Regions from separate parts of the Homo sapiens genome. Here all the other regions are reported to be linked to region 1. Evidence: microRNA targets listed by miRTarBase, many of them from high-throughput screens and not tested one by one. Region 1 holds a microRNA gene; each other region holds the end of a gene's coding sequence.
The links. Region 1 holds the annotated microRNA hsa-miR-125b-5p (UCCCUGAGACCCUAACUUGUGA, at 1,245-1,266, shown strand). A microRNA usually pairs through its seed, bases 2 to 8, with sites in the 3' UTR of a target mRNA and lowers its output. Matches are read on the target gene's strand: a 7mer-m8 pairs with bases 2 to 8, a 7mer-A1 pairs with bases 2 to 7 and ends in A, and an 8mer does both.

Region 2: the mRNA of PCDHGB2 is a reported target of hsa-miR-125b-5p. Seed matches in the 3' UTR shown: 7mer-m8 at 2,856-2,862.
Region 3: the mRNA of MYEF2 is a reported target of hsa-miR-125b-5p. The part of its 3' UTR that is shown has no 7-base or 8-base seed match.
Region 4: the mRNA of KRT7 is a reported target of hsa-miR-125b-5p. The part of its 3' UTR that is shown has no 7-base or 8-base seed match.
Region 5: the mRNA of PRKRA is a reported target of hsa-miR-125b-5p. Seed matches in the 3' UTR shown: 7mer-A1 at 3,310-3,316.
Region 6: the mRNA of RGS19 is a reported target of hsa-miR-125b-5p. The part of its 3' UTR that is shown has no 7-base or 8-base seed match.
Region 7: the mRNA of B4GALT3 is a reported target of hsa-miR-125b-5p. Seed matches in the 3' UTR shown: 7mer-m8 at 1,217-1,223.

What each region holds. Positions count from the first base shown.
Region 1 is chr21:16,589,009-16,593,083 of GRCh38, forward strand. MIR125B2 (microRNA 125b-2) reads left to right here and starts at 1,229; the gene lies at 1,229-1,317. The region is part of intron 6 of MIR99AHG (mir-99a-let-7c cluster host gene); the gene reads left to right.
Region 2 is chr5:141,510,832-141,514,906 of GRCh38, reverse strand. It overlaps PCDHGB2 (protocadherin gamma subfamily B, 2), which reads right to left. Exons shown (of 4, transcript NM_018923.3): 4 at 1,932-3,960. The coding sequence ends at 3,734. It overlaps PCDHGA1 (protocadherin gamma subfamily A, 1), which reads right to left. Exons shown (of 4, transcript NM_018912.3): 4 at 1,932-3,960. The coding sequence ends at 3,734. PCDHGA2 (protocadherin gamma subfamily A, 2) reads right to left here. Exons shown (of 4, transcript NM_018915.4): 4 at 1,932-3,960. The coding sequence ends at 3,734. It overlaps PCDHGA3 (protocadherin gamma subfamily A, 3), which reads right to left. Exons shown (of 4, transcript NM_018916.4): 4 at 1,932-3,960. The coding sequence ends at 3,734. It also overlaps PCDHGB1, PCDHGA4, PCDHGA5, PCDHGB3, PCDHGA6 and PCDHGA7, and 13 more genes. Among named protein-coding and RNA genes, the nearest start is that of PCDHGC5, 24 kb to the right of the region's middle. RefSeq lists enhancers at 1-121, 93-342, 122-747, 1,083-1,202, 748-1,373 and 1 more.
Region 3 is chr15:48,139,160-48,143,234 of GRCh38, forward strand. It overlaps MYEF2 (myelin expression factor 2), which reads right to left. Exons shown (of 17, transcript NM_016132.5): 17 at 1-3,912. The coding sequence ends at 3,749. It overlaps SLC24A5 (solute carrier family 24 member 5), which reads left to right. Exons shown (of 9, transcript NM_205850.3): 7 at 1-16; 8 at 1,954-2,055; 9 at 2,870-3,513. The coding sequence ends at 3,192. Among named protein-coding and RNA genes, the nearest start is that of SLC24A5, 20 kb to the left of the region's middle.
Region 4 is chr12:52,248,100-52,252,174 of GRCh38, reverse strand. KRT7 (keratin 7) reads right to left here. Exons shown (of 9, transcript NM_005556.4): 8 at 3,964-3,998; 9 at 3,254-3,584. The coding sequence ends at 3,415. It also overlaps the pseudogene KRT87P. Among named protein-coding and RNA genes, the nearest start is that of KRT7-AS, 2.7 kb to the right of the region's middle. RefSeq lists enhancers at 1-239, 1,769-2,375.
Region 5 is chr2:178,428,332-178,432,406 of GRCh38, forward strand. It overlaps PRKRA (protein activator of interferon induced protein kinase EIF2AK2), which reads right to left. Exons shown (of 8, transcript NM_003690.5): 8 at 3,083-3,923. The coding sequence ends at 3,766. CHROMR (cholesterol induced regulator of metabolism RNA) reads left to right here. Exons shown (of 5, transcript NR_110204.1): 3 at 2,439-2,558. Among named protein-coding and RNA genes, the nearest start is that of CHROMR, 17 kb to the left of the region's middle.
Region 6 is chr20:64,070,404-64,074,478 of GRCh38, reverse strand. It overlaps RGS19 (regulator of G protein signaling 19), which reads left to right. Exons shown (of 6, transcript NM_005873.3): 4 at 1-12; 5 at 101-335; 6 at 435-1,298. The coding sequence ends at 626. It overlaps TCEA2 (transcription elongation factor A2), which reads right to left. Exons shown (of 10, transcript NM_003195.6): 7 at 4,065-4,075; 8 at 3,844-3,990; 9 at 2,538-2,609; 10 at 2,132-2,307. The coding sequence ends at 2,299. Among named protein-coding and RNA genes, the nearest start is that of MIR6813, 4.6 kb to the left of the region's middle.
Region 7 is chr1:161,168,578-161,172,577 of GRCh38, reverse strand. B4GALT3 (beta-1,4-galactosyltransferase 3) reads left to right here. Exons shown (of 8, transcript NM_003779.4): 7 at 247-351; 8 at 489-1,268. The coding sequence ends at 762. It overlaps PPOX (protoporphyrinogen oxidase), which reads right to left. Exons shown (of 13, transcript NM_001122764.3): 7 at 3,395-3,585; 8 at 2,858-2,918; 9 at 2,554-2,672; 10 at 2,059-2,169; 11 at 1,809-1,958; 12 at 1,629-1,671; 13 at 1,358-1,544. The coding sequence ends at 1,402. Among named protein-coding and RNA genes, the nearest start is that of PPOX, 4.2 kb to the right of the region's middle.

The DNA of each region.
Region 1 (4,075 bases):
GTTTTTTTGGTTTTTGTTTTTTAACTATTTATTTTAAGCCATAAGTGATTCAGTATGGGAAATCAAATGATAAACAGAAAGAGATCTTATATAATGATGCATTACATCATGGAGCAGAATATTTAAAGTCTTACAAGGCAGAGTAAAGATCTGGACAGGGGGTGGGGGGTGGTGGTTGGAAAGGGGTGTGGTACTAGGGTGGAGGAGGGGGGCCAATTACCAAATATTTTGTGCAGTATAGCTTTCCTTGCAGCTTACTTGGAAATGGATGATTCACCTGTTCTACAGGAAAACATTCTAATTCTTTCCATTTTTTTTTTTTTCCTCCTCTTTTCCCTTTTAAGATCAACCACCTCAGAAGAGCCAGATTCCACTTCTGTGGCCAGGACTTTTACATTATGGCTGGTCCGATTGTTTTACCCTGCGTTCTATGCTACTAAACCTTGGATCATTCCTAAAGTACAAATTCTGTTCTCGAACCACAAACAAGGCTAAAAGATCGGAGGAAATTCAGTGAATATACAGGATTGGGGTTGTGTATTTTTAAAAGTATTGAGCTTTATAATGTAATTATTCAAGAAATAGAATCATGGTTTTTTTATGATGTTGCCAGCATTTTAAATTACATGTTTATTAAGTGGCATTGCTCAAATAACTACAGAGTATGCGTGGAAATATTTGCTGTCTGAATAGTTTGGAGATTCAAAGAGAAAAATCAAGCTTCAGAGGTATTAAATTATGACATGCAGAAAAGTTTTTGTTTTGTTCTTAACTGCAACGGTATATATTTAAATCCGATTTAAAGTATTATATGTCCTGGGCCCACCTTACCAGTTGTGCTGTATAGCAGTGTAATGGGAAGCAAAATTTCAATTAGGGTCCCATTAACTGGCATATAATCCTTCTTTAATGTAATAGAGGCTATGGTGTTGCTGTACAAATCTGCTAGAAGCAGATTTTAACCCATGTTTAGTCTCTTTCTTTGGATCTAATGGAATGACTCTTAACTGTTCATTGTCTGCATTGTTTCTCATATTCTTCATTATTTTAAGGTCTGGAATTAGTCTATAAATGGTCGTCGTGATTACTCAGCTCATCCTAACTTTTATATATCATATATATTTCTACTGAAGTATTTTAAATAGTATTTAGAGGTAAAAGTCTAAGTGAACCCAACTGTAATTTCTAAGCTATCCTTATTTCTGGAAGAAGAATTCTACCGCATCAAACCAGACTTTTCCTAGTCCCTGAGACCCTAACTTGTGAGGTATTTTAGTAACATCACAAGTCAGGCTCTTGGGACCTAGGCGGAGGGGAACCAGCAGCTTTGGACCTTATTGATTGTCTGCAGTTACCACCAGAACAAAAGAACATACATAGATTCTGCCTAGGAGAAAAGAACAATGCTTTTCTTTATCATCAGCAACGTTTTCACCATGACCCATCCCCAAAAATACTATTGTCAGAAACTGTACTCTAAAGTGATTACACAGTTGCACTGAAATAGCGTTTGTATTATAACGATCATACAAAAGCAATATAAGAAACCTGTGTAAGAAGCAAAATTAAAATATAAGTGTTTTAAAATGCTTCTTTTGGTGCATTTTAAGGTGGCTAGTATAAGAGGATATCTCTTCAGTTAATGAAGAGAGGGGATTATATTTATAACTTTTCATATGCATTGAAATATATACATTAGCTACTTAAATAAATCCTGTATGCCTCCATATAACTATGGCTCAGACTATGTCATATACAGCTATAAGCATGCTTGAGGCCTAGAAATAACATGATTTACAATCTTCTTTATTGACCCTATTAGATTTTACTACCGATTTAAGAAGAATGCTGTTTTATACTTTGTATTTATTGCCAGGGCTTTTCTGAGTCTTCTATCCAACCAACATACTTTATATGTCTTAACAATTCTAACAATTATTTTGTTACGAGAGTCCAAGAGTGAAAGTTTCACCAATAATCTGGGAAAATATGTCTTTTTAAAATTTTTTACAGTTTACTGTGTACATATCATGGGCCTACGTGAGATAAAACAGTAAACGCCACCTATGAAGTCAAACTGCTTTGACTAGCAACTGCATATGAACTGCATAGTTTTAGTTTTATAAGAATTTTAGCTTTATCGGAGGTAACTATTCCAACCATAAGTAATATGTCATATTTGAAAGTTTAATAGCCATTGCCACATCAGATATGTCTTTCTTGGAGATAGAATCAGTATGCTAAATCTATTTAAAAATTTTACAATAATGTTACAAATATCAAGATTCAAAATGGAGATGACAGACTTTCCTTAATAGAAGCAACAAAGTGGCTTCATTCTTTTAACTATTGCCTTAGATGGGTGCCATAAATTATGTGTCTTCTGCATTGTTAAAATAAATTTATGAATGTATTTTAGAATACTGTACGGAGTCTTTGTTCATCTTTTTAAAAATTTCTTATAATACCTACTTGAAATATTACAGAATACAAATCATCTATTAGTCATAGTTATTAAAAATTACTATAACAATATCATAAACATACACATCTATATAAAGCATGCAGAATATGTTTAAGCATGTATGCACACTGTACCTATTCAGATTCTTTATTTATATCATCTACTTCATTTATCTAGAAGTTCTGAAATTTTAGGTGTGTGTATGTATATGTATAAATATAAGTTTTAAAGCTCCAAATGAAAGGAGGTAATATAAACAGTAAAGAGCTTTGGTAGTATTTATCTTTTATTTCTTTTGACCTCATTCTCATTGGAATTGAGTATTTTTTAAAACCATAAGTTTCTTAATACAAAGAAATCTATGTATGTGTGTCTACATGTACACAGAAGCTTGATTACATTTAATAGCAATGTTCACACAATGGATCTGAAAGTACTTCTTGTAAAAAAGAATATCACATACAAGTATGTGTTTACTAACATCTGTTTTAACATGATCATAAATAATATCTGTGAAAGGTTCCATCAAGTTAGTTCCAAAACAATGTAAGGGGTAGATGTTTATTGGCTATAGTGATATCAGATATAGGTTATTCAAACGTGAAAATTTTTTAATGTTATCATATTCATGAACCACACTATATATTAACTTCTGTCTCATAAAAGAAATATACCAAAACTGAATTGAGAATGCAGTCATGTTTGTTCATTTTCACCATAAACATATAAAATGTTTTTTACTGATAATCCTGCACAATTGGAACTTCTCTATGTAACCCTCCTATATGAACAGTCTTTCAAGAGCGTCATTGACAAAGCTTTTCTTTTACTTCATAAAGGTGTATATAGATTTAAGTGGGTGACTTTGCTTATGTAGGCTACTTTATGCTGTATGTGCATAGACAGATGCCACTTTTTCTGCATTTCTATCTCAGCTGTCACAGGATAATATTGTTTTAGGGCTTTATGATATGATTTGGAAAATCAGATCATACTAAGCTTAAAATAAAAAGGAGAGATCTACAACAAAGAGCGAGAAAATGATGTGTGTTGCATGCAAAAAAAACAGTGATATTAACAATTCGATGGCTTCCTGGTTGGGAGACCAGCCTGAGCCAGACGCATATATTAAGGGCTGTCTGCTGCCGATGTGAGCTTGCTCAATGCGGTGGAAATGAGGAATCATCTCCTTTCTGACACCAGCTTATTTGTACATTTTAATTTTGAAATAGCCAATCACTGTTTTACATAAATATACTAACCCCTGCCTGATTCATTTTCTTTCCCATATTGTTTGTTAATTTACTGTGAACTTCAAGTTCCTTTTTTTGGCAAAAAAAATCATCATTCAACTTCAACATCTACCAAAGACCAATGAAGTATTAGCTTTTCTTTTGTCTCTTTTGTATTGCTCTGATAATATTGTGATATTCATGCTTTTAACTTTTAATCTCTGTAAGGAAAACATCAATTTTCCAAAATAGCATTTTTTAAAGCCTTTTAGGATCCATCAAGGAAGCCACTCTGGAATTTTGCCAAATCTAAATATGATTATATTTCATTTCAGGGTTCATGGGATCAATATCTTTTTCAGTATAAAAGTCCCAAACA
Region 2 (4,075 bases), not on the chromosome of region 1:
AAGCTAAAGGTGCCAGACACTTTACTTGGGCACAGGGCTAGAGATGATTAATACATGGTGGCTGCTGCCCCACCAGAGCTCACCTCAGGGCCGTTTGGCCACAGTAAAGGAGTGGGCGCCTGGTTCAGCTCCCTGACTCTTCCACATTGCTGCTACTTGGTTTGGAGCCCTTTTTTGGAACTCACTTGGAACCTTTCATGTTCCCAGATGTCACGCAAGGTTTCCTGGCAGTACCTGTGTCTCTTGCTGAGGGAAGCATCTGGCTCCCATTTTCTCATCCCCTCTGCTCTGTTGGTGGCCACAGACCACATTCCAGAGTAGAGGGGTTTACCCTGGGGTGGAAACCTGAGCCTGCCCAGCAGAGGTTGGGAGCCTGAGGTCATGCTCCAGATGACTTGCCACTTGGAGCCATACTTGTCTGAGCACGTTATGACCTGCACAAAAAAGCCAGACCAGCAATGAGCAGGCCCAGGATAGACAGGGAGAGGCCTGGAGAGGACCACAAACCCATTCGGGCGGGCTCTGGAACTGGAAATAAAAGCCTTTTAAATAGCCCTGGAGCCTGGGCAGCTGCCTCCTCAGTATGGCCTGAGGTGTGGGGATGGGTTGCCTGCCGCCTCCCTCCCGTCCCCCCGGAGGCCACGCCTTTCTGGTTCAGAGCTTTATAGGCACACATACCAATTAGGGGACAAACCACAGCTGCTCACGCGCTCTGCCAGTCTGCTGCTGTGCCTGGAATAGAACCCAGGCGCCCGGCACCCCGCCCCTCCGCAGCCTGGCTCTGAGTAACAAAACCCTGCTTCCATCTCAGCAACCGTGCACACCACCCTTCCTCCCACGCTAGAAAGTCGCCCCCAGATTCTTAAGTTGGAAGGTTTGGTTCCCATGACAACAGACTTGAGCTGGCAGAATGGGTGACCTGGCTCTGGGAGCCTCCGCAGCGCGGAGGAAGCCGCATACCCTTGCTGACCAGCCAGATAACCGCAGTGGCTCTGTCTTTGTGTTCTTGGGTCCTTCCGGGTAGTTCCCCTTTTAAGTCCCCCTTCACCCCCAGCTCCGTGTTTTTCTGCAGCTTCTCTGGCTGCAGCAACCTCGGAATCCCACAGTGCTTCGAGGAGGCAGGCGGAGGGGGCGGGGAGATGGGAGAGCAGGCGAGTGAGTGGAAAAGCACCGACAGGAAGGAGGGAGGGGAGCTGAGTCTGCGATGGATCTCATTTCCTGCACGTCCTTTCAGTCCCCTTGACCCCCGCAAGAAGAGGATGAGCCCTCCAATTTCTTAGGCTTCGCTACGGAGATGTCAGCGGGAAGGCGAATTCCAGATGGGGAAACTGAGGCTCGAGCTGCAGACTTGGCTTTGGAAGAATCACCTCCCGCATTCCCTCCCACTCCCGCGGCTTTCCCAAAACCCCTAGGCAGCGGGGGTGGGGGTGCGGGGGCAAAGGAGAGTCTACCCTCCTCCCGTGAAGCCCTCCGGGGCGCTTCGGGTAGGCAATTTTAGTCAGGAAGGGGCGGGAACTAACGAAACGTCCTCTCCCCTCTACCCAAGGCGTTTGCCCGGCGCCAACCCGCCCCCGCCCGCGCCGGGGTCTCCTCTTCTGCCTGGAGACAGCCGCAAGCTTAGACTGCACACTCCACTGCACACTGACACGCCGCACTCAGATCCCCACCCCCACAGCGGACCGATCACACAATGGCACACGGTACACAGATCCATAGGCACACAATCGCACACTGTCTCATAGGCACAACGGCATTGCAAGCATACACAACCATATTGCACAGTCACACACACACACGCAATTCGGAAACATCTAGACGCGCAATGACACAAAGTGGCCTCCCGATTCCGCCCTTCTTCCAGCACCCACCTCAGCTCATCACTTCATGCACACATGCCAGGAGCTTCCATCGCTTATACAGAAACGTTCAGCTTTTCAGAAGAAACGTTTTATTATTTTTTTGTCGAAGAAAAAAAGCCATATAAATATTAGAGTATAAAACTTGCGTGAGACACAGGAAGAGGGTGGGGTGGGAGCTACGTGACTATGCGAAGAGAAGCGCTTATAGGAGAAGTCAGTACGGGGGAGGGGGTCGCCTTAGCGCGTGGACACAGCACAAAACACAACACGGGCCGCCGCGGGCAGATCAAGGACAGACGGCTGCGCGGAGCCCGCCGCCCGCTGCCCACCCGCCATCACGTAAAAGCACACCGCACTACACTACTGGCTATTCTACACCAGCCGAAAGAGGGAGGGGGCGCTACACTACTGTAAGGGCAGGTCTGGGGTTCTCTGGCAGCCCCGCTGGATGGCCGGGGACCCAGGGGCAGAAGGGGGTGGGAGAAGAAGGTCTATGCACAAGGAGGCACTGGGGAACTTTAACCAGGCTATGGCCACTAGGGGGCGCACTGGGGACCTGGGCAGTGGCCTTCACGGAAGAGAAACGGCACCTGGCAAGGTGAAGGACTGAGGCTTCAGGAGGGCAGGGGCCCTGTTGAAGAAGCCCCATCCTGGGCTGAGACTTTCTGTTCATTTGGTCCCTGCCCTAGCTCCCTGCCTCCCCAACCCAGGGACTAAGAATGGCCTGGCTGGCCCACCCTTCCTGCTGGGGCTCCGCTGACCCTTCCACCAGTGGCACCTCTGGAGTACCCAGCACCCACAGAGGCCCCTCTGACCTCTCAAGGGGACCTGGTCCTAAACCTGCTTCGAGCTTCCTTGGACTGAAATGCCAGTTTAATCCATTGGTCCTGTTAGCTCAGCCCAAAGCTGGCTGCCTGGGCTGAGCCCTATTATGTAGTGGGAAGGGTCCAGCCTAGTTATTGGTTTATGGCTGGAATCTGGAGGATGTTGTCAGTCCCCTGAGGACATACAGAGCCTCCTCCAAGGCCTTGATAACTTGATGTGTCAAGCTTTGTCCATGCCCCCACCATCCACATCCACACACTTCCCTTCCTTATCTTACCACCCCATACTGTCTTGGAACATGCAGTGGAGTCTCTTGTTTGAGGAGGAGGTGGGGGAAGTCAAGGCATGCAGTGGAAACGTCAAACAATGAAAAACAAAACAGAAGACTGGTCCCCAGGGCGTTGGGAAGAGGCTTGGTAGCAAAATGCCCTCCCTAAATCCAGCAAGCATCAGTACCATGGGGATGGTGATCATGTCCTCCAAAACTTGAGCATTGATCTTGGGCTCTGGAAGGAGGTGAAGGGGCTGGCACCAAACCATGCTTTGGGGGAAGATTGAGAATCAAAGGAGAGGCCAAGAGGTCATGATGCCCTTCCAACTTTTCAGAACTAGGAGGCTTGTAGGTTACTTGGTACTTCAACACCCCAACCACCTTACTCGGGAAAGAGGAACTGTTGGAGTGGGGTGGGGAGGAGGGAGGCATGGGATGGATGGGCCTGATTGATTTGGAAGATGGAGGAGTTCAGCTGTAACTAAACGGGGTGTGGCAAATGGTTCTTGGTGTCTACAGTAACCCCACTACCCCCATGGGTACAGCAGTTGATTGGATGGGGGTTCCCAGCGGAACTGCTTTTGCATATTCAACCCCCTGGGGGGGAAGGGGTAGGTGCTGACTGGGCACTTGTTTCTGTTTCCCAAGGGGAGCATGGCCTTGGCCCCTACCAGTATTCTGGGGGTTAGCCCTGAAACTCTGAGGCCTGGGTGCAGGTAAGGAGAAGCTGGGCTGGTTGGGGAGAGGCCGCCCTGTGGCTCTTGGCCTGGCCTCCATGTTACTTCTTCTCCTTCTTGCCCGACTTCTTCTTGTTGCCATTGCCACCTGCTGGGGCCTTGCCATCCCGCTTGCCAGCTGCGTTGGTCAGTGTGGCATTGCTGCCTGGGATGTAGACATTCTGGCGGTAGTCGGGCACGTGCTGCAGGGTGAACTGGGGTCCGTAGCGGGCGCTCAATCCCATGGTGCCGGCACCCCCTCCCAGGGTGGAGCTCCCATCAGCAGCTTCTGCAGAGACAGAGGAAGATCAGGTGGGAGCTAAACTTAGGGTCCTCAACAGTCACTGTCTTATATCCCCAGCAGTTAATGAATGCCTATACAGCACCCTGGGCCTTGACCACGC
Region 3 (4,075 bases), not on the chromosome of region 1:
ATGGTCACAATAACTGGTATGTATTTTAAGTACAATAGCACAACTTGAAAATATTCATATAAGAACAAATTGCATATGTTCACTCAAAGTAGTCTAGCTACACAGCAAATTTCTTTTCAGCAAGATTGAAGATTAGTACCATTTACAAAATGATTAAGTATTACTATAACAAGATCACTGGAGTTTGTGAGTTGCATATTATATATAAACTGTATTTTCCACTGTTATTTAGCCTGGGGTACAATTCAAGAGATCTTATAAATGAAATCAAATTCATAGGATGTCTTTTTATTATGCTAATAATTTAATCACATTCCATGGGGTCCACAATAAACTCTTTATATTGAATTCCATTCCATAATAAAAAAAAAAAAGAACAAAAAAACAAAAACAAAGCAAGGAGCTCTATTTTTGGGAAAACAATGGGTGCTCACTGCTTAACTGGATTGTATTTTATTTGGCTTTTCAACACGGCAATACAAACATATTATGAAATGAGTGAAAAGGGCATAATAATTTTATTCTAGGTTTCTACTACCTTCATGATTAAGACTTAACTAGCTACTGCTGCTTGGCCATAATCCACTACAGTCCCTAAACAAAAAAACTATGAACAAAGACAAAAATAATCTGTAATTTCTCCTACAAAGGTTAACCCAAATTAACTTACAGCAGAGGTGAACAAACTACTGCCTGTGTGCCAACATAACCCAGCTTGTTTTTATTAGTAAGGTTTTACATATTATCTATGATTGTTTTCACACTACATTGGCAAAGCTGAATAACTGCAACAGAAATCACACAGCCTGCAAAGCCTAAATAATTACTATCTGGCCCCTCACAGACACAAAAATTTGTTGACCCTTGACTTTTCCCAAATTAATGTAAGTCTCAGAATAGTATGCTAGCAAAAAGTGGACTACTTCTTCCTTTTTTTAATGAGAAAAATGAAAAAGTCCAATTAGCTTGCATATTATATCTATCCAAATTCACTCAGCCAGAACACATTTGATACTAGAAAAATAAAAAGAGAGCAAAAATCATGTAATAGATCACAGAACAGCCCCCAAGATGATAAATATTAGTGTTATTTATGCACATATGAATTCTAGCAAAGCCAGTAACAGAAATTAACAACCAATTCCAATTCCAATATCAATGTATAAGCATGCAATAAATAAGCTACTTTCTAATTATTTTAGTTGGCATTTTAAGAAAAAAAAAGAGAAAGAAAAAAAAGACGCTAAACCAAGTTTTCAATTACAACATTAAAGGAACAGTTACATAACCTTTTGTTTAACTTCTCTCTGGTTCTGTTTCTGAGAATAAATACATTTCTGAAAAATGTTGACCTGACATCAAATTTAACAGAAGTATTAATAAATTGGGACCATATGTTAGACTCAAGTAGAAAACAGGTTTTGTTTTCCTCAGAGATTAATGAACGTTCCCCCTCCCCCGCCCTGCCAAAGCCCACTAAATTAAGGTATATCACTAAAGTAGAACATAATAAATGGTATATATACATGTTAACACATTTATAGCTTAAAGATAGCTATAATTAATTTGCTTAACTCTGACTAATATTTTTAAGAAAGAAAAAGCGGAATGATCAGTCTCATTATCAAATATTCAGCACAGCCCTGATGAGATAATGGTGGACATAAACATCTTTTGTAAGAATATCAAACAGGAAAATTTCTCACTGGCAGAATTTTAGCTGTTACGTATCTTTAGATATGTCATTAAAAATCTGTGCTACCTGGGTTACCCGAATTACCAGCCTGATTCAAATATGTTGCTAGCTAAAAAACTAATAAGCAAGCACATATTGGCTCTGAATTCTAAATGTGCCTATTTTATTTTTGTTCACGAAGGAAATATCCAAAATAACTGCAAAGGATGGTTAGTGAATCTTTAAGATTTGTAACTTGAAATATCTGTTTATTACAGGGGAAACACTAGAAATTCCCGATACAGTAATGGGCCTTACTTTATTAGCAGCAGGAACAAGCATACCAGACACAATTGCAAGTGTGTTGGTTGCAAGAAAAGGTAAGAACTAGGTCCCTCAAGCTGCAATGGTCATTCTACAAGGCTAGAATGAGTAAAAGTAGCTTTAAAAATGTTTACTTCCAGCCGGGTGTGGTGGCTCGCGCCTGTAATCCCAGGATTTTGGGAGGCCGAGGCGGGTGGATCACGAGGTCAGGAGTTTGAGACCAGCCTGACCAACATGGTGAAACCCAGTCTCTACTAAAAATACAAAAATTAGCCGGGCGTGGTGGCATGTGCCTGTAATCCCAGCTACTCAGGAGGCTGAGGCAGGAGAATTGTTTGAATCCAGGAGGCGGAGGTTGCAGTGAGCCGAGATTGCGCCACGGCACTCCAGCAGCCTGGGCAACAGAGCGAGACTGTGTCTCAAAAAACAAAAACCAAAAAAAAAAAAAAAAGTTTACTTCCTCAGTAACATACTTTGAAGGGGGAAAAAAGTGACTCCAGAGGAAAAGTTTACTATTTAATAGCAGGTTAATTTCACTCAATCTAATCCCCCAAATAATATTCATTTGAAATGTGTGTTAAATAGTAATTAACCATTAACCATGTTAAATTACAATGAAAAGCAACAAATAAGCTATATACCTTATTGAAAAATGGTTTAATAAATATAATTATTAAATAAATGTTAAGACTTTAAATACTAACCCAAGAAAAATTTAAAAATACAAATTCAGTAAGACTTTTGCTCTAACAACAATTTTTCAAAACGAATCAACAACAAAAAAGTATCCAGTGTTTCTTTTCTTATGAAGATTATTAATAAAACACAGTATTGGTAAGCACATTTTAACAGTATGCTTTTCTTTTGTAGGGAAAGGAGATATGGCTATGTCTAACATCGTGGGATCCAATGTGTTTGATATGTTGTGCCTTGGTATTCCATGGTTTATTAAAACTGCATTTATAAATGGATCAGCTCCTGCAGAAGTAAACAGCAGAGGACTAACTTACATAACCATCTCTCTCAACATTTCAATTATTTTTCTTTTTTTAGCAGTTCACTTCAATGGCTGGAAACTAGACAGAAAGTTGGGAATAGTCTGCCTATTATCATACTTGGGGCTTGCTACATTATCAGTTCTATATGAACTTGGAATTATTGGAAATAATAAAATAAGGGGCTGTGGAGGTTGATATTATTAATAGTGTTATGCAGAAAATATGAATGGCAGGGAGGGGCAGAGAGAAAAATCCATTTCTTCATTTAAATCAAATTTTAAAAATCTTGAACCTTAGAATCTAAAACTTACAGTAATTTAAAACCAACCAAAATCACATCCTAATTTTTCTGAGCCCTTTCTTTTCATGAAAAATTACATATTATAAAACAGAAGTTTGGGGGGAAAAAATCTATGTTTTACCATACAATAAGTTGACAAAAACTGGAGAAACTAGAACAAACAAATCCAACTATGTAGTACTGAAAACAACAAGAAAATGGCTTATTTCATTAAAAACAGTATAACCATTCATTTAAACTGAATGACCAGACTTGCTGTCTTTAAAAACCCAAACTTGAGATTAACAAAAATTACAGTATATTTTTAACATTATACTGTTAAAAGCTGGTGGGAGTTTTAAAAGTTCATTTTTACAGCTTTTGTAAGCATACAATATTACTTTAAAAAAATGACTTTTACTAGGAGATTCAGCAAAACAGATGTAGGAATGTTCCAACCATGGCTTGAAATTATGCATTACGATCCAAGCGAACATCAATTTCTCTGCCACTGATTTTTATGCCATTCATTATTCTGCAGGCTTTTTCAGCTGATTCTGGGGAGTCAAATCTGACTGTTCCACAGCCTTTTGACTTTCCATTCTCCATTTTTATTTCTGCAAACATTACATGACCTGTAAAATAAAAGTTACAGAATTACTAGTCAGTTTAAATAAGTTCTATTTCACTTTATAGGTTTGAAATTCCTCATAGCCAATTGTGATAATTAATTTGATTAAAAACATTAATTATTTAAAATAAATAATATAAGCATTATATTTGGACTAAAATACAATT
Region 4 (4,075 bases), not on the chromosome of region 1:
ATTATTTACTTGGAATGTGCATCAACGCTAATTGGAGGAGAGAATTTGCAGGTTAAACAGATTTCACCAGCTTTGCTCCCCACAACTAATTTCTGTCTCTTTGCTTTCCCTATAAGGTTGTGTGAGGGCGTTGGTGCTGTAAATGTCTGTAAGTAATCCATTTTGTGGGTCCTGAAATAACAGCTTGGGGTTCTGGGCAGGCAAACTTTTTCTTAGAGCTTCAGATAGTAAAAACTTTAGGCTCGTGGGCCATGTAGTCTCTGCCTCAACTGCTCCACTCCGTTGTCATGTAAAGCAGCCACAGCCAAAGGCAATACTTGAAGGAAGCGGTATGACTGGGTTCCAAGAAAACTTGATTGACAAACAGGAAGCCTGCATGTGGCCGTAGTTTGCAGACTCTAAAAGGAAAGATGGAGTGGGGCAGTGAGTGCTTATAGTAACTTAATTAGCTACAGTCATGTACCACATAAGGACTTTTAGGTCAAGGATGGATGGAATATAGGACAGTAGTCCCATTAGATTATACCATATTTTTACTCTACTTTCCTAGGTTTAGCTATGTTCAGATACACAAATACCTACCATGGTGTTACAGTTGCCTTTAGTCTTCAGTACAGTCACATGCTGTACAGATTTGTAGCTTAGAAGCAACAGGCTATGCTATAGGGTAAACTTGTCAAACCCCTGACCAGAAGGCTGCATACAGCCCAGGACGGCTTTGAATGTGGCCCAGCACAAATTTGTAAACATTCTTAAAACTTACGAGATTTTCGTGTGTGTGATTTTTTAAAGCTCATCAGCTACCGTTAGTATTAGTGTATTTTATGTGTGGCCCAAGACAATTCTTCTTCTTCCAGTGTGGCCCAGGGAAGCCAAAAGATTGGACACCCTTGGGGCCTGGGTGTGGTGGCTTACACCTGTAATCCCAGCACTTTGGGAGGCCAAGGCAGGTGGATCACTTGAGGTCAGGAGTTTGAGATCAGCCTGGCCAACATGGTGAAACCCCGTCTCTACTAAAAATAAAAAAATTAGCCGGGCAAGGTGATGGACACCTGTAATCCCAGCTACTAGGGAGGCTGAGGCAGGAGAATCACTTAAACCCAGGAGGCAGAGGTTGCAGTGAGCCGAGATCGCGCCACTGCACTCCAGTCTGGGCGATAGAGAGAGACTCCGTCTCAAAAATAAAAATAAAAAATAAAAAAGGTTGGCCACCCTCGCCACAGAGCCCAGGTGTGTAGTAGGCTACAACATGTAGGTTTGCGTATGTGCACTCCATGATGTTCGCACAATGACAAAATCATTTAATGCTGTATTTCTCAGAACATGTCTCTGTTGTGAGGCGAAGCATGGCTATGTCTGCCTATAGAGAGGACCTGGGCTAACAGTGTATCAAGGACGCCTGAGGCTAAGACTGCAGGAAGGAGTGCCCATGTGAGGGTTTGAGGGGCGCGCATAGAAACAGAGGGGAGAAGCTCTGAGCAGAAGGGGCCTCTGGCCGCCAGGAGACTGGGCCCTGTCCTCCCCCTCTGGCAGGTGTCAGCAGCTCTCGCGGCGGGGTCTTATGCGGGGACCTGTGCGTGTCGGGCTCCCGGCCGGTGACGGGCAGCGTCTGCAGTGCCCCCTGCAGCGGGAACGTGGCGGTGAGCACCGGCCTGTGTGCGCCCTGCGGCCAGAGCAGCGGCAGCGGCCGCTCCGTGCGCTTCGCCTGAGCGCCCCACTTTGTACCGACGCCGCCTCACCAGCAGCAGCCTCTGCCTCCAGAGGCAGCCCGGAGCTCCCACGGTCCCCAGACGTGGGGAAGGAGGGCTTCGGGGCCCAGCCTCCCCATCGGCCCCCACGCCGCGCCTTCCTGTCTCGCATCCCCGCCCGCTAGTCCCTTCACTGCTTCCGAGAGCACAGGGCTCCTAGCCCGCAGCTCTCCCAACCCCCGAATCTAAAGGACTGTCCTCGCAGCCCTAGGTAAAGACCCCGGTCCGGAGGCCTGGATGCCTGTGGCTTCTGAGGGACAGATGGGCCTGGAGCCCCTTGGTGTGGACTTGCTGTGCCTTCTAATCCAATGTCTTCTAATACACGTGCAGGACAGGCCACCTCTCCTGCCTGGCTGCCTGGCTCCCTCCCTCTCCCCTGTGCTTGTCTCAGCATTTCCAGTAAAGCTCCTGATCATATGCATTGTGCCCTGAGAGTCTCTCCTTCCTCTTGCCCACTTGGTCTTCTTAGTCGGGAGGGAGAGGGCCTGGATCTCCTGACACCTTGGGTGGGAACCCCATCACTGTGGCTGCTGGTCCACTTTTTCCACTCTCCACCCCAGCCCCCACCTCAGCATTTGAAAGTTCCCTGACCATAGGGTCAAATATACAGACTTCCTCCCAGAAGCCAACACATCCCACATAGCTCCCCCATCCACACCACCACCATCACCCCTGGGGTCCCAGACACAGAGACCTCCCTGTGGCTCCACAGTACCCATCATATGTGCTGCTGCCCATCAGGGACACATTTCCCCATGCATAGGCCCTGCCACAGAACACCTGCCACACTCACAGACACACAGACCTGTGTGTCGGGGACTCTGACATAGAAGCCCCCATCAAGCACTGACTTAACACAGATGTCCTTCCCCACTCCCATGGATCCAGATACAAACCCATCCCTCCACTAAGGTCCTAGGCACAGACCTGTTACCGGGGATCTAGACTCTAGGACCCTCCTCCCATGCACACACACACCTCCCCCCCACAACCACTACCTCCACAGAATTCAAGATGCAGAGGACCTCTCCAGGGCCCCAGGCCTGGCTGACCATGAGCCTGGCAGACCCAGCACCAGGAAGGGCTGAGGACGGCTGGCATGAAAGTTGGCTGGGCCACCCGAAACTGGAAGCTGGGGCAGCTGAACGTCTGTGGCCTCCTCACAAAAGGAATGTGCTCTGGCAGCTCTGGGCATGGGGGGAGGGAGGCAAACAGCCTTTCCACCCCCTTAGCAGGGCAGCCCTCCAAGGCCCAATTGCTGGCAGAGCCTGCATTTCCCCGTGGCTCTTCTGGGCTTCCTCAGGAGAATCTTTGGGATCAGCCCCAGACCTGGAGGCCAAGGCTCACCCTAGGTAAGCGTCCTGCTCCTTAGAGCAGCACCCCATCCCACCATGTGCCTTCTCAGTCTCCTGCACAAAAGGCTTCCTAGTCACCAGGGAGACCCTGCCTTCTCTAGTCCCGTCTTTTCCCCTGCCCAGCCTCATGAAGCCAGGATACCAGGCACGTGGATCACTCAGGCCTCAGAATGAGGCTGCTTTATTGGAAGCTATTCTGACATCACTTTCCAGACTGTCTCACTGTCTTGGGACCAGGCATGGGAGGCAGGGGTGGGAATCTTCTTGTGATTGTGGGTGGTGGCTGGAGGAGTGGAGTGGTGGGAGGCGGCTCAGTCGCGGGCACTCCTGCGACTGGCGGATGCGGTCCGGATGGAATAAGCCTTCAGGAGCCCAGGACCCGCACTGCTGGAGAAGCTCAGGGCATTGCTGCCCATGGTTCCCCCGAGGGTCAGCCCAATGCCACCGCCACTGCTACTGCCACCAGTGGAATTCATCACAGCTGGGAGAGAAAAGAGGAGGGCTCTCTTCAGCGTGAGGCTCCCTACCAGGGACCCCATCCCTTCACTGCACCCCACCCTCCTGCCCCAGCTGCCCCTCTCCCTCACCCCTGCCCCCCTCCATGGGCCAACCCAGAAGGAGCATCTGACAGGGGTAGGGCTGCTCCCCAGGTGCTCCTGGCCCCACCCTGCCCTCTTGTAGTGCTTCCCAGGCCATTGAGCCTGGCAGTATGTGCTCCAGGGGACCTGTCAATCCCTGTAGAAAGGAAGGAGTCTCCTGGCCCCTCCAGCAGGGCCCTGGGCCAGTCTGCCATTCTCTAGACCCAGCCCCATCTAAACAGCACAAGGGATGCTTCCCATGGGCCGCAGCCAAGGACTTACAGATATTCACGGCTCCCACTCCATCTCCAGCCAACCTGGGGGCAGAGGACAGACAGTGAGGACGGCTCTTTCCTAGCGTGGGAGGGAAGCGCTCTCAGCCCTCTCTCCTTCC
Region 5 (4,075 bases), not on the chromosome of region 1:
GTTCCATTTTTTCCCAATCAGGGTCCTGACAACAGCACAGTAGACCTGCCTAGCTTGGGTCCTAACTTCTTTGGAGTTTTATTCTCATGACTAAGTCCTGGGCCTGGTCCTCAGCTTCCTCTCCTCATTGGCTTGAGAACCTGAGAGTCTCATATTCTACGAGGGAGGCTTTCTGGCCCTCACACTGAGTTTTTGTTTGTTTTTGAGACAAGATCTTGCTTTGTCACTAAGGCTGAGTGTGTAGTTGCACCCAGGCTGGGAGTGCAGTGGCACAGTAAGCTACTGTAACCTTGAACTCCTGGACCCAAATTATCCTCTGGCCTCAGCCTCTTGAGTAACAGAACAACAAATGCATGCCACTATGCCCTGCTGATTTTAAATTTTTGTGGAGATGGGCCTTGCTATGTTGCCCAGGCTGGTCTTGAATTCCTGGCCTCAAGCTATCCTCCCTTTTCAGTCTTCTGAGGCACTGGAATTACAGGCATGAGCCACGGCTCTTGGTCCCACACTCAGCTTCTAATTACCAACTAATCACTCTCATTCTTTTATTTTGAGACAGGGTCTCATTCTGTAGCTCAAGCTGGAGTACAGTAGTGCAAATATAGCTCACTGCAGCCTCAAACTCCTGGGGTCAGGTGATCTTCTTGCCTCAGCTTCCCAAATAGCTAGGACTACAGCCACAAGCTACTGGGCATGGATAATTTTTTAAATATTTGTAGAGACAGGGTCTCGCTATGTTGCCCAGGCTGGTCTCAAACTCCTGGCTCAGCCTCCCAAAGTGCTGGGATTACAAGTGTGAGCCACTATGCCTGGCCCATTCTCATTCTTCTGTTATCTTTTTCCAAGGTATCGGTCTAGCTCAGTAATAACTCTTCAGTTCCACTGTCTACACTGTTTCCCACCTGATCTTCGTGCCTGCCGGTGCATTTCTTTGTGTTGACATGCCATCTCAGTTCACCACTAGTCAAAGTTTTAATAACTGCACTGTCAGGGTGTGCTAGCAGTTAACTTCTCCCTGCCCCAGTGAGGAGACTCTCATCCTATAAGTGAGAAGGCAAGAGAAATGGCTCCAAAAGCACACTGGAGCACCTACTTTCCTGCAACCCTTCTGATACCAAGTATCACAGATGCTGAGATGAAGATTAGTGGGTAGGAGATTTGGATTGCCACCTGTGGAAAGAAAGGAAACTCCACTGGGTGGAGGAAGAATATGGACTATGATGCAATCTCAAAGGTGGCCTTAGCTGACACTAAGGGGAACTCTGAAGCTAGGATGGTCTTTCAGATTGTTCTAATATGGGGCAATGGGACTAGTCTTTGCATGCAGCCTGGCCCAAGAAGGAAGTGTGACTTCAGATGAGGTGGCTCTTTTCACTTAAGAGGGCAATTCTACTGACAGCTGAGGGCCGTTGGGTGCACACTGCCAGAGCGAGAAAACAAAATCCTCTGTAGGGAAGGGGACTGTGTGGCATATCACAGCACACCCCGAGAACAAGGGAGCGGCTCTTCATCAAATAACACAATATGGGCCCACATATTCCCAGAGGCTGCTATAGTGCTGGGCACATTAGTGCTCAATAACTTATTGAATTAGTATTATCATATTGTGCTATTGCCATCCTCATCTTTTAAAGTCACTTATCACTTAATGGATGTTCTTGTTAGAACTGACACTATGAAGATGACTATGACACAATTACCTGTTGAGCCTATTTGAGAAATTAACCTATATTTAACAAGTTTGACTAATTAGATTGGTTAAGAGCCTTAGCAGAGGGCTAAACAAAATGGTGTTAAAGAATACACCTGATGGTCCAAGAAAATCCCTAACTCCCTAGAAGGTCTGGATAGTCTGAGAAGTGACATTCGAACAGTGTAATGCACTTTCCTCCAGAGCCAGAAGCAGGGAAAGCAGAGGCAGCAGCAATTTTATCTTCTGGGCACCTTATCCTCAGACCTCATTTTATCAATACATACGGACTGTCTACAACCACGTAATATCCTTTTCATCAGCCTTATGAAATTTTCCCCCAATTTATCCAAGTCAGGATTTCAGTATGCAGAAGTCTAATGTCATCTTGGAGAGTTCATTGTGCCTCCCCCATATCCAAGACCATTTACTAAAACCTTAGTTCAGTCTTTAAAGAGTCACAAGATCCTATTATGCCTAGTTTTTTTTCCAGTCTTTTAAGTCTATTCCTTACCTTGCCAAAAAAGTACCTGTTTCTATGGTTTAACAAATGGAGCTTAGAATATGGAACTATGGTAAGTGCTCTTTAGAATTTAAAATAAGTTACATGTACTGGTTTTCCTTTATTTTGTAGTTTTGTTCTCAAAGAATTCCAGATATGATTTTTTTCCAGACAAAAATACCTGCTACATGCTTCCTTCTGTATGAATACATGAGACCTACCTTCATTCATGTTTCCTCTATGAAGCTTTCCCTGCACTCCAAACACAGAGCTGAGACTTCCACCTAATGTAGAAAGCTAGCACGAGCCGGCGCTGACAGATGGAAGACTTGAGATGTTACAAGATTATATATGGAAACACAAAAGGTAAGGTTAAAATCTGTTCATTAGACTTATTTCCTAACCTTTTAATCACTCATCACTTTGGAACATTCTTGCAACTGAACTGAATAAGCTGGGAAGGTTTTTTGGGTAATTCTACTAACGCTTTTTTTTTTTTTTTTTTTTTTTTTTTTTGAGACAGGGTCTCACTCTGTCACCCAGGCTGGAGTGCAGTGCTGTGATCCTAGCTCACTGCAGCTTTGATCTTCTGGGCCCAAGCAATCCTCCCACCTCAGCCTCCTGAGTAGCTGGGACTCAAAGTGTGCCACCACACCTGATTTTCTTTTTGGTAGAGATGGGGACTCACTATGTTGCCCAGGCTGGTCTCAAACTTTTGGCCTCAAGGGATCCTCCCACCTTGGCCTCCGAAAGAGTTGGGATTATAGGCATGAGCCAACATGCATGGTCAAATGCTTTTTAAACTAGTAATTCACCTGTGTATGGTTATGTCAAAGAAAAATACAAGGTTGCATACGCTTAGAGAAAGTAAGGAAGTAACCCATTACATGTATGTTTGTAAATTTTACTTAGGCCATCATTTTTTATTTTCACCTTTGAATTTCAAAGTAAATTAGAGATATGTAAATAACAGAATTATCAACATTAAAATCTTATTCACAATGGCTAACAAGAACAGGATGACAGTCAAGTCAGTAGCTTTTTAATAAAATGAGCAGAATCCCATCGTAACAGTTCTTTGTTACATGAATTCAAATACACAGCAGACCAATCATGTTCCCTGAAATTTAACAATCAATCATACTTAATAAAGGCCTGTTAGTGCTGTCCCTCAAGACTCTAATTCTAAAGGGCTTCCTTTGAATTCCCTTTATAAAGCTTTGTGCAAAGAAGAGCTTAAGCACCAGTAAGAAAGACTGTCGCTAGCATTTTTATTTCATCATCAACAACAAACATGCAGTTTCTTTCTCTGATGTGCATGGCACTGTAAAATGGGTGCTACACTCTCTCTTGTGGTACAAAGTTTATAAATACAGTATACTGATACAAAGTTGAAGCCATTAAAAAGAGCTTAATAACAACTATGAGGAGATAATTAAATCTGGAGTGTTGATGGAATCTATGAAGAGATTTAGAAACAAGACATAAACACTACGGTAAAAGTTTTACTTGGGAAGGGGCCAGAGGGGAACTTTTTATGTGCTACTGAAAGATTTTTTAAGTTGCTCCAGATTTACTTTCTTTCTGCTATTATCTTTAAATACTGCAAAGCATTGTGAGCTGCATCACTTTGTGCATTGCCACAGGAGATACCGGAGCCATGACAGACTGTGATGGGGCTGGTGGACAGTTCAGCAAGACATTGATATTGTCCATTGGCGCTCAGTTCATCTGTAATGACACATTCAAGGATGACGATTAATGTCCAATATGTATAAAGTGGATCCCTTTGTAAAAACAATACAATTCTTATTATTGTCTTTCTTTTTAAGCCTCCATGGTATACTACACCACTCGCAATCTTTGTTTTGCTTGTACAAACA
Region 6 (4,075 bases), not on the chromosome of region 1:
CTGTGAAGTATGGTGAGTCCAGCCGGCTGGTGTGTGCGTGCTGGGGGGGCCCCAGACCGGGAGACTCGGGCCTGACATAGCCTGGCCCCCGTGCCCACAGTGCCACGCCAAGTCCTGAGGAGGTGCAGAGCTGGGCGCAGTCTTTTGACAAGCTGATGCACAGCCCAGCGGGACGCAGCGTGTTCCGGGCGTTCCTGCGGACAGAGTACAGCGAGGAGAACATGCTCTTCTGGTTGGCCTGCGAGGAGCTGAAGGCCGAGGCCAACCAGCATGTGGTAGACGAGAAGGCGAGGCTCATCTACGAGGACTACGTATCCATCCTGTCCCCCAAGGAGGTGCGCCAGACACCAGAACAGGCCGGGGGCCGCCTGCTCCAGGCACTAGGTGGGGAAGGCAGCTCCCGCACCCCCTGACCTCAGTGTCTTGTCCTGCAGGTGAGCCTGGACTCCCGTGTGCGGGAGGGCATCAACAAGAAGATGCAGGAGCCGTCCGCACACACGTTCGACGACGCGCAGCTGCAGATCTACACGCTCATGCACCGGGACTCCTACCCCCGCTTCCTCAGCTCTCCCACCTACCGTGCCCTGCTGCTGCAGGGGCCATCACAGTCCTCCTCCGAGGCCTAGGCCGCCCCCAGCAGCACAGACCCCGCCGCCTCCTACGGCCGACTCTGGGTTCCCTTCAGGTGTTGTTGTCGGCAGGGCTGTCAGGGCACATGCCTGGCCGGCTGGGGTCCCCACCCGCGGAGACGGTCCTAGACCCAGTGGGGAGTGCTGTGTCTCCTGGGTCTGCCCACCCGTGGCCAAGCAGGAACTCCAGGTGCAGGGCGGGCCTCCAGGTGCAGGGCGGGCCAGAAGCCCCCTCATCGGCCCGCAGCTGGCTGGCCCAGTGCTCCTGGCTGGGGGCTCTTGCGTGGTGAGAGTAGGGGTCCCCCCAGGAGCCATGCTGGACCCATGAGCCTCGCTGGGGCCTCCTCCCCAGGCAGCCAATGGGCCCCAGACAAGCCTTTGGTGGGGAACAGAACCTCCGCATCGTGTAGTTTTGTGACATAAGGAGACCTCCTACTTGAGCTGTCTGTACCCCAGAATCAAACACAGAACCTCAGAACCAGATTTAGGACCTCAGAATCCTGCACTCAAGGTGGCAGGACCCAATTTCTGTTTTATATGTTCATGAACTTTAAACCTGGAAACATGTCCTTACTAGGTGTTTTATCAAAAAAAAGTTTTCATATTTATCTCTATCCCTAACCCCCCAAAAATAGGATGTCTTATTATTGAAGATATTTTTAAAGCAAAGTCTCTACTCATTTTTGTCCAAGTCTGGGGAGAGACTGGAGAATGAGTGGCCCCAGACTCAGGGCTGGGGAGAAGTGTCCTTGTCCCAGGGCAGGGGCTCCAGTGCCCCTTGGAGGGGACACACAGCCGTGTGCTTGCCCTCTTCCCATGCCCTGGCCTCCACCAGACCCCTCCTCAGAACAGTGGTCCCAGTGGGTGGCTGTGCTTAACCCTGCCCGGGGCATGAGCTCCACGCCCTCGGCCTCAGCCTCCTTAGCTGAAAGTCGGGCCAGAACAGTGACCCACAGCACCTCAGAAGTCGAGAGGCAACAGGAGGTGCCGCCCAGGCCCAGCCGGACGGGGTCCCCAGAGGCAGGCTGGCTGGGGCAGGAGGGGCCACTTGGTGCCAGGCCCAATGTCATCTTTCTCATCTCACAGGCCCCATGAGTTGAGTGCTCACCAGCCCATCCCCTGCATTTCTGGGAAGTTAAGTGAGTTGAAGCTGAAATTGGCTCAGGGCCCTGAGACCACAACTCCCACAAGAACAGAGAAGGCAGCATGGGGACAAGCTGTCCTGAAGTGCCGAGAGGTCCCGAGCTGCCCATGCCTGAGGCGTTGGGGAGGACACTGCCCTGCACAGGACGCACACAAGACCCTCTCCCCACCTGCCCTCACAGGCAGAGCCGCCCCAGGTGATCTCTGAAGGTCAGCCAAGCTCCTCTCCTGGGGCTGACCCACCAGGGCCAAACCCAAGCACTGCCCAACCCCAGGGAGGGGCCTTGTCCACAGCAGTGGAAACGGGTCAAACATGGGGGACAGGGGCCCACCAGGAGTAACGGCTGAGGAGAACAAGATGGCAAAAAGAAACATTTAATAATGAGGGGGAAAGGGCAGAAAGGTGCAATCCAGGCAGGCAGGTTGAGGGCAGGACATGCCGCCTTCTAGGGTCTCCAGAGAAGCTGTGTCAACGGAGGACGTGGGCCGGGGAGGGCCCAAGGCTGCAGCACATCTACACGAGGGGTCAGCAGAACTGCGAGAAAGGGGGTGAGGCCTCCAGCCTTGTGGCCACATGAGATCCCCCAGAGTGGAAGGCCGCACAGGCTCACCCAAGGCTGGGCTCTCCACCCACCATGCCCAAGACTCCCAGGAGGCTGGTTGGGCAGGGCCATCCCCAGTTCACACCACAGACCCCACAGAGGCTGAGACACCCCACCTCCAGAGAATGGAGCTGGGAGGGGCAGCCTGAGCCTGCTCACCCACCTTCCAGCGGTTTCCACACTCGTTGCAGACAACAAAGGTGGTCATGGGCTCATCAGAGCTGCGGGTCTGCACCTGTGAACAGGGCTGGGTGAACCCAGGGTCACCTCCATGCTCCGCTGCAGACGGCATCCCCTCAACATGGGCAGTGCGGGCCTCGCAGCCACTGAGCTCCCACAGGTGACCTGATCCGAGGCCGCCTCGTGACTCCAACCTTCCAAAGCTGAGCCTCCGGGGGAGGGAGACAGAGTTTATCGGGGCAGAGGCCCTTGTGTGAGCCTGAAGCAGCTCACATTGGCTGGGGACCAGGAGGGCCCAGACTTGGCTGAGGGCAAGAGGGTCCCAATGGTGGGGGGAACTAGCAGGGGTCCCCAGTGCCCGCGGCTGCCTTCCGGAAGGCCCAAGGGTGAGCCTCCGGCCACAGGCAGAGCCTGTTCTGACCAGTGGCTGGGAGCAGGAGAGAGGCAGGCTCTGCACCGACCCAGGCCCCATGCAGCCTTCGAGGGGAAGGAAAGGCTGTCCTTGCAGCCCCTCACGAGTCCCATCTGCCAGGTGCAGCGGCCGCCTCGACACACTCCCCTCTTTTTTTTTTTTTTAAAGACGGAGTCTCGCTCTGTCGCCCAGGCTGGAGAGCAGTGGCACGATCTGGACTCACTGCAACCTCTGTCTCCCGGGTTCAAGTGATTCTCCTGCCTCAGCCTCCTGAGTAGCTGGGATTACAGGCATGCGCCACCACGCCCAGCTAATTTTTGTATTTTTAGTAGAGACGGGGTTTCACCATGTTGGTCAGGCTGGTCTCGAACTCCTGACCTCATTATCCGCCTGCCTCGGCCTCCCAAAGTGCTGGGATTACAGATGTGAGCCACTGCACCCAGCCGCACTCCCCTCTTAACAGGGTCCCTGCCATCTCATGGGATCCACAGTCTCCCCAGCACACTCAGTGTCCACCTCCATGGCAGGGACTGAGGGTCCTGCAGTCACTGCCAGGCAGCAGGCAGCACGGCCCTCCCACCAACATCAACACCTCGAGGGCCCTCCGTTCAGGCTGGGCTGGGCCAGGCCAGGCCCTCTGACTTGAGTATCCGCAACAAGTGGGTCCCACCACCCAAGACGCCGCCCCGTGGAGCCCAGAGGTCCTGGGTAGAGGGGAGTGGTCCCTGAAGGTGGCCATCATGCCTTAGCCTACTCAGGGACTGAGAGGCTCGGGAAATTCATGCAGCAGAGGCGGGAATAGGCATGGGCTCCAAGGAGGGGCACCAGATGCCCTGAAGACACCGGGCCCGGGGGAGGGTGCCCAGCGGCCGCTCACCTGTGTGTAGGTGCAGTTCTTTTTCCTGCACTTGCCGCAGGTGAACAGGTCTGTCTGCGTGCCGCCAGTGCGGGCCATCTGGTGCTCTCGGATGGCCTCCTTGGTCATGGCCTTACGGATCTCCTTCAGCTCATCACTGGCCATCTCCTGGAGCACGGGGCCAGTGGCTTAGCCCACCGCTCCGAGGGAGCAGCCCTCCAGCCCCTCCAACAGGGGCTCACCTCTGAGGTCA
Region 7 (4,000 bases), not on the chromosome of region 1:
AGGGAATAGGTTGCCAACTGTTTAAAGGCCCTAGGGTGACTGGCACTGGGCCCTGAGGATTTGGATACATCCAGCTTTTATATTCTCTTCAGCCATTTCCTTCTTTCTGTTTGACTTCTGTCCTGGGCTTTTTTTTTCTTTTGCCTACTAAGTAATAGTTGTTTTTTTGTGTGTACAGAAACATTTAATCCCTTCCTTGCTTTTCTCTACTCTGGATCCCCCATGATACCCTCACTTTTCCCATAGGGTGCGCCTGGCTGGGATGAAGATCTCTCGGCCCCCCACATCTGTAGGACACTATAAGATGGTGAAGCACCGAGGAGATAAGGGCAATGAGGAAAATCCCCACAGGTAGGAAGAAGGAAGGACTGCCTGGGAATTGTTACTGGATCCTCAGGGTTCTGTACCCCTAGCCAGGAAAATCCTAAAGGTCCCTAGATTTCTGGCTGTTCCTTTCTGGGTCTTAGTCTCCAACCTCTAACCCTCAGATTTGACCTCCTGGTCCGTACCCAGAATTCCTGGACGCAAGATGGGATGAACTCACTGACATACCAGTTGCTGGCTCGAGAGCTGGGGCCTCTTTATACCAACATCACAGCAGACATTGGGACTGACCCTCGGGGTCCTCGGGCTCCTTCTGGGCCACGTTACCCACCTGGTTCCTCCCAAGCCTTCCGTCAAGAGATGCTGCAACGCCGGCCCCCAGCCAGGCCTGGGCCTCTATCTACTGCCAACCACACAGCCCTCCGAGGTTCACACTGACTCCTCCTTCCTGTCTACCTTAATCATGAAACCGAATTCATGGGGTTGTATTCTCCCCACCCTCAGCTCCTCACTGTTCTCAGAGGGATGTGAGGGAACTGAACTCTGGTGCCGTGCTAGGGGGTAGGGGCCTCTCCCTCACTGCTGGACTGGAGCTGGGCTCCTGTAGACCTGAGGGGTCCCTCTCTCTAGGGTCTCCTGTAGGGCTTATGACTGTGAATCCTTGATGTCATGATTTTATGTGACGATTCCTAGGAGTCCCTGCCCCTAGAGTAGGAGCAGGGCTGGACCCCAAGCCCCTCCCTCTTCCATGGAGAGAAGAGTGATCTGGCTTCTCCTCGGACCTCTGTGAATATTTATTCTATTTATGGTTCCCGGGAAGTTGTTTGGTGAAGGAAGCCCCTCCCTGGGCATTTTCTGCCTATGCTGGAATAGCTCCCTCTTCTGGTCCTGGCTCAGGGGGCTGGGATTTTGATATATTTTCTAATAAAGGACTTTGTCTCGCATCTGCTCCTGCTTTCTGCATCCCAGGCACACTTTGCCTCTTTGCTGCCCCGCATTCTTATGCCTATAGGTGATAGAACAGCCAGACCAAGCCAAGCTCCAGCAATTTTTATTTTCATGAATGAGAGTTGGGGATCAGCTGTTAGGTTCTGTGCCCAGGACACTGACTGCTGCCTGGCGCCCACTCTCTATACAGTCATTAACAGCAACTCCCTCATAGGAGGCTCCAGCCAGAGTCAGGGGCAACCTGTGAGCAGTCAGGAATTGCCTAGCTGACTCTGGAAGGAAAGGATGAAAGGAATGTTTTAGCTGGGGGTCTGATGTCCTTGGCCCTCCTCAGCCCAGCTGTTTTCCCAACTTACCTAGTTTTTGCCAGTGACCTAGTGTATACTGGGGAATGCAGTTCTGAGAAGAGAGGAGAGGATGCAGGGAAAAGTTTATTATTGATGTCCTAGGCCTTGGCTGACATACAGTGACAAATGTTCCAGTCTCTGTCTTCAAGGCCTTCAGTGGAGAGCTGAGGGAAGTTTATCCCAACTTACCTTGTGTAGATGGACCAAGCAGTGGCTCGGCATCTCCTTCAGTCCTAATTGTGTAGCAGCTGCTTCCTGGGCCCGCTGTTGAAACAGCTCCTGAGATAAGACACAGCCACTAGCCTCCAGTGTCTGTAACCAGGAACCTCCCAGCATCACCTAAGGAGGGAATATAGCACTGATCAGTCTGGCCTTGCCTACAATGGAGCACAGAGGAGCCCTCTGGAAATGCCACTAGGCAAAGTTTCCTCCTCCTCACAGTCACTCTGAGGCCAGGGGGGCTCCCGTCCTGCTCAGGGAAAGCAACTGAGTCATACACGATTCCCAGGACTCCTGGATCTTCTGAAGATGGCACCAAATGTCCAAATCCCTGGAGAGAAGGACATTCATGCGTCAGAAGGAAAGGGCTCTAGCTGAGGCTGTCTCTCCTTCCCATTTTTTTGGGGGGGTGGGGGGGACAGAGTCTCACTCTGTCACCCAGGCTGGAGTGTAATGGCGAGATCTCAGCTCACTGCAACCTCCACCTCCTGGGTTCAAGCGATTCTCCTGCCTTAGCCTCCCGAGTAGCTGAGATTACAGGTGCAAGCCACCACACCTGGCTAATTTTTGTATTTTTCGTAGAGATGGGGTTTCACCATGTTGGCCAGGCTGGTCTCGAACTCCTGACCTTGTTATCTGCCCACCTCGGCCTCCCAAAATGCTGGGATTACAGGTGTGAGCCACCATGCCCAGCCTCTCCGTCCCTTTATCATACCTGGACAGGCAGATGGGCTCCTTGGTACTGCAGATTCACCACAGCTACAGACACTGCAGTGATGGCACTCAGGGCACGAGCCAGAGGGGCAGCCTCAGCAGGGAGCAGCTCACTGAGCACTAGAGATCAGGCAGAGGCCTGACTCAGAAGGCATTCCCATTACAGTTGTCAGTCCTCTTTGGGATTAGACTCCCATAGAGATGACCAGTTCAGGGGCATGGTGTGGTCCTGCTGACCCAGGAAGGTATAGCTTTTGCTTCTCACTGGTAGGGGTTGGGGAAGGGGAAGGTGGCTATTCCATTACCTGAAGCTGGAATGGCACTAATAACGTGGTCAGCCTCCAGACTGCTGTCCCTTAGAGATACCTGAGAGCATGAAAACATTTGAGAGACCCAGAAAATGAGAATTTGATGAGTGAAAAGAGACTTCTGGTGCCTCACTCTCAGTTTCCCAGGCACCCATGTGGCCGGGGAGACTGTGTACTGACCCAGGATGAAGAGATTGGGTGACTATGTAGACTTCACAAAAAATCATTCCTCTGTGTACTCCAGGAAGTGGACCAGACAGGCCAGTGTGGCTGTTCTGAAATGTTCAGTGAAGCTGGGTTCTTTCCCCTATCTCTAAGCCACTTATAAGTACTACTTCTATCCACAGACTTGCATAGGCTCTTTGAGGAAGGTTCACAAATAGGGCCTAGGATTCTGGGGTAGCCCATGTCTAAGTAGCTTCTAAGGCACAAAAACAATGAGGAACTCCAGTCCTATCGGCCCTGGCCTAGTTAAGCCACTTGGATAAAGATGGAAACACTGACAGGTTCATTACACTCCAGGGGTTCCCCTACCTTCCAGCGCCCTTCTGCCTGGAGGCTGAGCCCACAGACCGGCTGGCCTCTGAGAACACTGACCCCCCTACTAGTCAGGTGGGTTTCAAGGGCCTGAGGCAACATCTCTAGACCTCCACGAAGTGACCACTGGCTCCAGCGCTCAGCCAAGGCCTGGCGAATGAGTGCTGAGTCTGGCTGTGGGGTCCGCCCTGCAGAGGAAGCAAAGAAGAATCATTGAGGCTGGATGCAGTGGCTCACACCTGTAATCCCAGCACTTTAGGAGGCCGAGGCGGGTGGATCACTTGAGGTCAGGAGTTTGAGACCAGCCTGGCCAACATAGTGAAACTGCATCTCTACAAAAAAATACAAAGATTAGCTGGGAGTGGTGGCACATGTTTGTAATCCCAGCTACTTAAGAGGCTGAGGCAGGAGAATTGCTTGAATCTGGGAGGCGGAGGTTGCAGCGAGCCGATCTGAGATTGCACCACTGCACTCCAGCCTAGGCAGCAGAGCAAGACTCCGTCTCAAAAAAGAAAAAAAGAATCATTGAATAGCACCCCTTGTCCCCACTCCCTCACTTTGGCAGTACTTAATATTTTCACCCTCTGAATCAATCCCCCCTCA